3 linked regions of the Homo sapiens genome follow. The protein of the gene in region 3 purifies or fractionates together with the protein of the main gene of each other region. This does not show direct contact. Each region holds a gene or a part of one and is shown on either strand. Other genes may lie near its edges.

The links. The genes of interacting proteins can lie anywhere in the genome.
Region 1: the proteins of DEFB125 (region 3) and GDF11 purify together in Homo sapiens (affinity purification with mass spectrometry; one large-scale study listed by BioGRID and IntAct). This does not show direct contact.
Region 2: the proteins of DEFB125 (region 3) and LMLN purify together in Homo sapiens (affinity purification with mass spectrometry; one large-scale study listed by BioGRID and IntAct). This does not show direct contact.

What each region holds. Positions count from the first base shown.
Region 1 is NC_000012.12:55,753,122-55,755,442, forward strand, and holds part of GDF11 (growth/differentiation factor 11 preproprotein), read left to right. Parts: 3' UTR 1-2,321. UniProt on the Homo sapiens protein: Secreted signal that acts globally to regulate anterior/posterior axial patterning during development. May play critical roles in patterning both mesodermal and neural tissues. It is required for proper vertebral patterning and orofacial development.
Region 2 is NC_000003.12:197,963,217-197,966,716, forward strand, and holds part of LMLN (leishmanolysin-like peptidase isoform 1 precursor), read left to right. Parts: intron 1-3,500. UniProt on the Homo sapiens protein: Metalloprotease.
Region 3 is NC_000020.11:86,253-90,471, forward strand, and holds the start of DEFB125 (beta-defensin 125 preproprotein), read left to right. Parts: upstream 1-1,419; 5' UTR 1,420-1,457; coding exon 1,458-1,515; intron 1,516-4,219. UniProt on the Homo sapiens protein: Has antibacterial activity.

The sequences.
Region 1 (2,321 bases), on a different chromosome or scaffold from region 3:
AACAGTCCCAAAGACAACAAGACCCCTCTCCCAGCCTCCACAGAATGGAAGATCTAAAGGTTCTCTTGAGATGATCCAGCTAGTATGGAAGATCTAAAGGTTCTCTTGAGATGATCCAGCTAGTGTCCTATTCTCCTGCAGTCCCTGTTCCTAGGTTTCCTCAACGAAGTTTGACAAAAATCTAAACCAACATAGCCAACGAACTTGCCTTGTTACACAAGAGTGGCTAAAATAGCATCTCAAATATTCTTTCAGTTCACTGTAAAAATTTTTCCCATGTACCTAGAGCACAATTCCCCAGGAATATGAGTTGGGAATGGCAAAAGAATATTGCCTGACTCACATTTTTCAAAAATAAGGAAAGCTGGCTGGGCGCAGTGGCTTACATCTGTAATCCCAGCACTTTGGGGGGCCGAGGCGGGCGGATCATGCAAGGTCCGGAGTTCGAGACCATGCTGGCCAACATTGTGAAACCTCATCTCTACTAAAATACCCAAAATTAGCCGGGCGTGGTGGCGTGCGCCTGTAATCCCAGCTACATGGAAGGCTGAGGCAGAAGAATCGCTTGAACCCAGGTGGCGGAGGTTGCAGTGAGCTGAGATCGCACCACTGCACTCTAGCATGGTGACAGAGTGAGACTCCCATCTCCAAAAAAAAAAAAAAAAAAAAAAAAAGGAAAGCAGGACCCAGTGGTGTGCTCCTGTAGTTCCAGCTATTCAGGAGGCTGTGGCAGGAGGACCACTTGAGGCCAGAGGGTCAAGGCTGCAGTGTGCTATAATTGGGCCTGTAAATAGCCACTGTACTCCAAGCTGAGCAACACAGTAAGACACTGTCTCTAAAAATAATTAAAGTAAAATAAAAATAAGGAAAGCTCCTGTGACATCAACCTGATCCAGAATTGGGGACAGCGCTACTGCGGGTTCAATGTACTGCCATGTTTTCCCTGTCTTATCAGTTCTATCAGCACACTGACCCCACTCGAGACCAACTACAAGACTAAGGCTGGAAGTGGTTGAGTAGCAGAAGTGTTATGTATTCTATCTTCCCAAGGGAACCATATCCACATCTACCCCTAACTTTGGCCTGAGCTGAAAATGGGTTTTCTCTCCCTGTGGCTCATTTGTTTCCTATATTGAGAGAACACCCAAAAAAAGACTACTCAAGATGACTTTTTACAAGTCTTTTCTTTATCCTAAAACATCCTCCAACCGAAGGCATGGGAAGCTATCCTATACTCTGACCTTGCCTATATTTTAAATGGCAGGGGCCCCAAGCTAAGAATCAGCAGGCAGTGGCATCTACAGCTTCTGGTCTGTAGTGGCGTAGAAGCAGGAAAATCAATGCTCCAAAGCAACAATGTCCAGCTTTCCTGCCAGTGAGCTGGGCTTGAGGGAGTGAATGGGACTCTTTCTGCCTTTTCTTTTTCTCAAAATACGACTGCATTAACTGGGTGTATGCACACACAAACATGTTCAAACTAGGGCACTCATACCTAGCTAGAACCTACTCAGGGAAAGAAATATGTATTTCCACAGTACCCTGATCACCCAGTAAAAGCTAATATTTATTGAATAATTACTATGCAAATTATGGTAAGCAAATTGTAGTGTGAATACATGATATGAGAATATCACTTAATTCACACAGCAACCTTCACAATGGGGTTCCTTTTGGTACAGTCTGAAAAGAGAATGATTATCTGCGCAGGGTCTCAGAGCTAGTGTGGTAGAATAAGAAATTAAACCTAAGTAGTTGCTAAACAATATTACATTCTAATCTATCCTATTGAAAGTGATCCGGGAGGTAGAAACCTAAATACAGGAATAACATAAGGGAAAGAGATAACAAGAAAGTTAGGGACACCTTGGACTCAAAGAATCTGGAAAGATGTGAAACCTGTAATTTTAAATCCCTTTGGAAGGGAAAAACAAGAAAAGTCTAGATATGGCAAGAGAAGGGGAGGTTAAATTTTGGGGGGATTCCAATAATCAGAAATAAGTGGCATTGCCAGAGGCCCTCATATAAGAGAACAGCAAAAAAGTTATCCTCCCTTAAGTTCCTCCCTCACTCCTCATATCAGACACAGCAAGAGAACTCAGCTCAACACCAAGAAGTCCTGCCCTTATTCACACCTTCCTTCCTATAGCCCTCATCCTCACAGAAGCTTCTAGCCTCTATCTTCAGCAGTTCTTAAGAGGTGGGGTGGGGGGCTGGGCAGTTTAGAGTGAGAGTGGAAAAAAAGAATAATCCTAGAGAACCATAAAAAAGTACAGATTTACAGCTGAGGAAGCTAGTTCTCCCCACAGCTTTTATAGACTCCC
Region 2 (3,500 bases), on a different chromosome or scaffold from region 3:
TTGTTTTGAGACAGTCTTGCTCTGTCACTCAGGCTGGAGTGCAGTGGCAGAATCATAGCTCACAGCAGGCTTGAACTCCTGGGCTCAAATGATCCTTCTGCCTTAATCTCCCAAGTAGCTGGGACTCCCAAGTATGCGCCACTACACTTGGCTAATTTTTTATTTTTTGTTGAGACAGAGTCCAGGTGGGTTTTGAACTCCTGGCCTTAGGCGATCCTCCTGCCTCGACCTCCCAAAGTGCCAGGATTACAGGCATGAGCCGCCGTGCCCAGCCAGATCTTGCATGTTTTTTGTTAAATGTTTTCCTAAGTCTTTTATTTTTTGATGCCATTGTCAGTGGAATTATGGTTAAAGTTTTCCAGTTGTTTGCTGCTAGTATGTAAAAATACACTGCTAGTAGGTAGAAATAATTTTTGTATATTAACCTTGTCTTCTGAGACCTAGCTAAACTTATTTATTCTACTAGGGTTTCCTCCCTTACAATTTTTGATGTTAGCAATGTATTAACTATAAATAGGAACAATTTTTGTTGTTGTAGTTTTGTATCATTTATGTATTTTTTCCCCCTTATTGCTCTGGTGAGGACAGGCAGTTCCAGGCTGAGCAAAAGTGAGATAGCACGCCTCCTTGCCATTTGTTCCTGATCTTAGGACCAGTCTCTGACCATTAAGTATGATGTTAACTTTACATTTTTTTGTAGTTCCCTTTATCAGATTGAGAAAGCTCCCTTTGGTTTCTGGTTTCCCGAGGGTTTTTATCCTGAATGGGGACAAATTTTGTCAAATGCTTTTTGTTTTTTCTGGTAATTATTGAGATAATCATATAGTTTCTCACTTTATGAACTGTTATGTGGTAGATTACATTGCATTTTCCAATAGTAAATCAACGTTGCTTTTTTGGGATAAACCTTACTTGGTCATGTTGGCTTTGGTAATTTTCTTTAATGTTTGTTTCTATTTCATTGTTTTCTGTTCTTTGTTATTTCCTTTTTCTACTTATTGTGGATTTAGTTTGCTCATATTGTTAGGCGGAAACTTAGATGACTGTTTTTTAACCTTTTTTTCCTTCTAATGTAAACATTCAAAGATATAAATTTCTAAGTACAACTTTAGCTGCTCTTCACAAATTTTGACACTTTGCATTTTAATTATCATTTAGGTTAAAATTTTTTTTTTGTTTTTTGTTTTTTGTTTTTTTTTTTTGAGACAGAGTCTTGCTCTGTTGCCCAGGCTGGAGTGCAGTGGCGCAATCTCAGCAGAGCAACCTCGGCTTCCTGGGTTCAAGCTATTACCCTGCCTCAGCCTCCTGAGTAGTTGGGACTACAGGTGCACGCCACCACACCCAGCTAATTTTTGTATTTTTAGTGGAGATGGGGTTTCACCATGTTGGCCAGGATGGTTTTGATCTCTTGACCTTGTAATCTGCCTGCCCTGGCCTCCCAAAGTGCTGGGATTACAGGCGTGAGCCACCACGCCCGGCCTAAAAAAGTTTTTTAAGAGACAGGGTCTTGGTCGGGTGCAGTGGCTCATGCCTGTAATCCCAGCACTTTGGGAGGCCGAGGTGGGTGGATCACCTTAGGTCAGGAGTTTGAGACCACCCTGGCCAACATGGCGAGACCTGTCTCTACTAAAAATACAAAAATTAACCAGGTATGGTGGCGGGCACTTTTAATCCCAGCTACTCTGGAGGCTGAGGCAGGAGAATTGCTTGAATTCAGGAGGTGGAGTTTGTAGTGAGCTGAGATTGTGCCACTGCATTCCAGCCTGGGCGACAAGAGCGAAACTCTGTCTCAAAAAAAAAAAAAAAAAGAAAGAAAGAGACAAGGTGTCCCTCTGTCACCCAGGCTGGAGTGCAGTGATATGATCATAGCTCACTGCCACCTCGAACTCCTGTGTTCAAGCAGTCTCCCCGCCTCAACCTTATGAGGAGCTAGGACTTCAGCCACATGCCACCACACCTGGCACATTTTTTATTTTTATTTTTGTAGAGACAGAGTCTTGCTGTGTTGCCCAGATTGGTCTTGAACTCCCAGTTTCAAGCAATCCTCCTGCTTCAGCCTCCCAAAGTGCTGGGATTACAAGCGTGAGCCACTGCACCTGGCTGAGATTATTTTATTTATGGTTTAGAATATGATCTATCCTGTTTAATTTTTCACGTGTACTTGTGAAGAATATATATTCTATAGTTTTTTTTTATTTTATTGTTTTAGAGATGGGATCTCAGTATGTTGCCCGGGCTGGTCTTGAGCTCCTGGACTCAAGCAATCCTCCTGCCTTGGCCTCCCAAAGTGCTGGGATTATAGACATGAGTCACTGTACCTGGCCTATTCTGTAGTTATTGAATATAGATTTCTATACATGTTAATAAGCTGAGGTGATTGATACTTTACTTCAGATTTTCTCTATTAAAAACTATTGGCCAAGTACAGTCACTCATGCCTATAAGTCTAGCTCTTTTGGAGGCCGGGATGGCAAATCGCTTGAGCTCAGGAGTTCAAGACCAGCCTGGGCAACTTAGTGAAACCCCGTGTCTACAAAAAATACAAAAATTAGTTGGGTGTGGTGTTGTACACCTGTAGTCCCACCTACTTGGTGGGGCTGAGGTGGGGGAATCACTTGAGCCCAGGAGGTGAAGGCTGCAGTGAGCCAGGTTGGCACCACTGTGTTCTAGCCTAATAAAGACTGTATTAATACAGGAGAAAATAGGTGTATTTAGCTTGCTTGTGGTTCAAGCTTACATGTGTATCTTTTCAGTTGCCTACATTTACCTGTGTGTATGTGTGTGTGCTTGTGCATTTTAGGCATTACAACATATATCTTTTGTTTATTGCATGTTTTTATTTTTGAGACAGAGTCTCTCTCCGTTGCCCAGGCTGGAGTGCAGTGACACAATCTTGGCTCACTGCAACCTCTGCCTCCTGGGTTCAAGCAATTCTCCTGCCTCAGCCTCCAGAGTAGCTGGGATTACAGGCACCTGCCATCATGCCCGGCTAATTTTTGTATTTTTAGTAGAGACAAGTTTCGCCATGTTAGCCAGGCTAGTCTCAAACTCCTGACCTCAAGTGATCCACCCGCCTCAGCCTCCCAAAGTGTTGGGATTACAGGCATGAGCCACTGCACCTGGCCTATTACATCTTTAATGTTAATATTATCACACTGTCTGGGGCATGATGTTGAATAAGAGTGGTGAGAGTAGACATCCTTGTCTTGTTTCTGATCTTAGAGGGAAAACATTGTCTTCCACTGTTAAAAATATTAATTGTGGAGTTTTTGGGTAGGTATGCTTTATAAAATTAAGAAAATTCCCTTCTATACCTAGTTTTCTAAGAGTTTTTTTTTTTTTTAATCATGGATGGATGTTGAATTTTGTTAACTGTCTTTCCTGCACCAGTTGATACAATCATGTGGCTTTTCTTCTTTACTCTGTTGATATTATGAGTTACATTGATTGATTTTTTTTGAATGTCAAATCAGCCTTGCATTCTTGAGATGAACCTCACT
Region 3 (4,219 bases):
AATTTGAAGTGAGGTAATGTGATTCCTCTAGTTTTGTTCTTTTTGCTTAGGATGGCTTTGGCCATCCTGCATTTTTAACCCTTTTCCCATTTTCACCCAGAATACTCGCTGGTGGCACTTGCAGCTGCAGGGTTTACCCTGAGATAACTTTGCCACAAAATATCTCGCCTTTATTATTATTTTCACATCGTTCTAATATATCGACTTTGAAAACACAAATCATCATTCTATTTATAGCATCTTGTTGTTAGCAGTGGTATTTCCATTTACAAAATATAGAAATTCTTGATCGCTGAAAATGTCAAATTCTAGAAAGCATAGCATTCCCATGTTAACATTGTTCTCAAACAGTTTTGGGCCAAAGAGTCATTTAATGAATCCGGTTTTTTCCAAAATAGATGATTCTGATTATTCAGATGATTCTGATGTTAGTTCTGTTTAAAAATAATTCCAAGAACAGTTTGTATATTTTATTTTCACACTGAACATCAGTCAGCCTCCAGAGCATGTTAATGTAAAATTAAATGAACATGGGCAGTGAGCTGCAGTTTTTTTTCTAAACAGTGCAGCTGTTTAGAAAATTTTTTTAAAATTTTCCTGATTTCCTTGGTATTAAACATATGTGGGAGAAATACAGCTCAGCAAACTCTTCCAGGAGATAAAATGCTGATCACTCCTACTGGGCAATTTCACAAATGTCTCCTATATTTTTCTCCTTTGGTAGTGGGGATGGGGGGCATAATGTTACATTGGGCCTCTCTCCTCTCTCTCTTTCTCTCTCCCTCTCCTTTTAAAATGTTTCCTCTCTCTCAATATTTCATTTCTTATTTGTATTTCTGAATGAGGGAAAAGAGTTGATGGGACAGCGGAACGGGAAAAAGAAGAGCACCAATAAAACCTGTTTTCCTGTTTTCACTATTTTCATTCCAAATTCCTTCTGTCTCATAATTGATGGAATCTTATGAACTTATTAGTTAAAAAGTGTCTTTCTTGTTTCACAGGAATTCATATCGGGGTGATCACTCAGAAGAAAAGGTGAATACCGGATGTTGTAAGCTATTGAACTGCCACAAGTGATATCTTTACACACCATTCTGCTGTCATTGGGTATGTACAAAGTGCTGCATACAGACAGAGGAGAAGGACAATTGAGCCCATCTAAAGTTAACAAAAACTTCCTCTTGGGGCTGTTTCTTTCCATCAGACCTTACAGTTCTACGGGATAATAGCTTATCTCATAAGGCCTCAGCTTTCTTTAATAATTTCTAGAAGCAGACGTTATTGTGTCATGCACACTCAGTGTTGCAAATTAATGGTCTGGTGATCTGGGTGGCATGGCATTTTCCCCTTCTCTGGTTCATCACCCATGATAGACCAGTAAAGGTGACCACTTAAATTCCTTGCTGTGCAGTGTTCTGTATTCCTCAGGACACAGAGCTTCCTCTCTCCCAGGAGCCATGAATATCCTGATGCTGACCTTCATTATCTGTGGGTTGCTAACTCGGGTGACCAAAGGTAATGGAACCCTATAAAGCAGAGATGATGACTAGGATGAGTTGTTGCCCTTGGGCTCCCCTGGTATCATGATGGGAAGAGAGGGAATCTGCAGGAAAAATCTGGGCCAACAAAGAGCAGCAGAATGCTCTTATTTTGGCAGCTCCATGCCCCTAGTCTCTGAGAATCTTTCTGTTAGGGGCATCTAGCAAGCTGGGATGTCCTCTGAGGCATTTCTCCAAAGACAAGAATTTCCTTAATGCTCTGAGCCACCCTATCTGTCTCTCTACATAACTATCCAATGTTAGTTCAGCCTCACTTCACTTCCATTTCGATTATTCTGTTGTATCTATTTCATTGTTGTGTCCTATTAGTTCTCCTACCATCTTGAATTCTTCTTTGCCCGGAGGGTACCTTCAGAGGGAGGCCCTCACTTTCATGTTCTTAGATATGGTGAACAAGTCCATTGACAGTTTGTAGATTCTGTAGCACTATCATATGGAAGAGACAATATATATGTTTGGGGTAGAAGTGGAAATAAGTGGAGTGAAGACAGGATAGACAGACTAGTGACCAATGGGGAGCTTCTAATTTTAGATGAATAGGAACAGTCTGTTTCCACTATTTAATAATGCTACTTTTGAAAATTGTTAACTTTTTATTAAAAAATAATACTTGCAATTGACTTATGTATCAAGCAATCGATGGATTTATAGGGTTTAAGGAAAAGAAAAATGTTTGTCTGTCCAAGAATACCAGTTCTTCAGTCTTCCCCTTCAGAATCAATCAATGTTACCAATTTCTTATATATCCTAGCAAATACAAATATATTTATATTTGCATGTGTATACCTTTTAGATTTTTAAAAAATGCAATTGCAAATGCACCATGTGAATTGTTCTGCAATGTACTAGCAATATATTAGAGACATCTTATCCATACATAAACCTAGTTCATTATTTTTAATCGATAAGTAAAACTTTGAGGAGGAGCAGATGAATTGCCTCACATTAATTACTCCGCTACTGATGAAAAATAGGTCTTTAATTATCAAAAACAATTCAGCAAGAAAAATTTGTAAACAAATGTATGTCTTTTCATTTATGACTGGACACGTGGACACACACACACACACACACACACACACAGTCAAACCACCTACCAGAAAAGCTGAACTATTCTTCTCTCCTATCACCAGTTGCAAGAGTGTCAGCTTCCCACACCCTCATCAGTCCTTTTTGTTTTTTCTACTACATTCAGTTTTCTACTACATTCAGTTTTACAGTCTAATATGTGAAAATGATGTCCTGATGTTTGAATTCATGACACTTTAGTTATAAATGAGTTTGAACATCCAGTCCATTAGATTTCTAAACTTTCTTAATTATCTTTATATACTAAGAAATTTGGCTTTTGTTAAATTTGGAGGTGTTATATGTTGCCTAGAAAGATGCTATTCATGTCTATTAAATGGTTATAACTGTGCCTATGATCTGTTATGTCTTGATTCACATGTTGATGTAATGTGAGTTACAGAATTAATATCTACATTCATTTCTGATTATAAACTGCTGTATTTGTTGAAAATTTGGAAATTTTGAAATTGTAAAGAAGTAAAAAAATTGTAAAGAAGTTAAAAGAGACAAAATATTTTTGATCTATTGTTCTTCCTCAGTTTTCTTATTTGAATAAAAATGTATAGCATACTTATAAATTTTCTATTATACTATTAGTATTTTCCCATTTACTATTTTCAAAAACTGTATTTCCAATGACTGTATAAATTTTATAGAATGGATACTGTTTAAATTACTTAGCCAAATTGTTTTTGCATAAATAAGTGCATTTACATTTTATAGACAAGGATGGCTAGTATAACCTTTCTTATACATAAATCATTCAGCATAAAATTCCTGGAGATGTACTTTTTTCTGTCTGCTTCATGTGTTATCAATTTTTGAATACTTGCCAAGTCCTAAAAATGAAATATTATATATAAATATTTAATTTTTATTTATGTCTGTGAGTAATGGGGAAGTCGAACTTCAAATACATGCTTAATGTATATTTAACTTTTCTACAAATTGTCTATGTCTCTCTTTCTCTTTTATTTTGGAGAGGTAGTTTTCATTTCTTTTGATTTAGAGATTTTCATTTTTGTGTTCTCTTATAGGTTTTGTTTTGAAATTTAGCTATTTAGTCTCTCTGGGCTTTATATTATGTGTTTTCAAGTGAGATAGCACCTGATGGCTTGTGAAGCAACTTTTTACCAAGCCAAGCTATCAGTGGACTGGTATCCATAGATATATTTTAAGTTGATGCTAGCTGATTATATATCTGGTATGTTTTAGAAAGAACTCCACACATGGGATAATGTTTTGGCTAGATGGCTCCCCTACTTAGAAACATACAATTGCTAGTCATATTTCTAATTTTAGGATTTCGAGATACTGGTGATGAAGATCACATGTCCTAACAACATAATAGTTCCAGACTGAAGTTCTTTGAAAAAAATGACTGTTGTCACTTTAGAAAAAAAAAATTATGAATTATTCCCAATTGCCATCATTCTACTGCTAAAACCAAATTCTTGGAATTATCTATGATTTTTCTATATCCTATGACACTCATATCTATCAGGAAGTCTATTACATCTGCCTGCAAATTATATCCAGAATGCAATTATTCTCGCCACCTCCATTGCTGCCACTCTGATTCTAGTCAC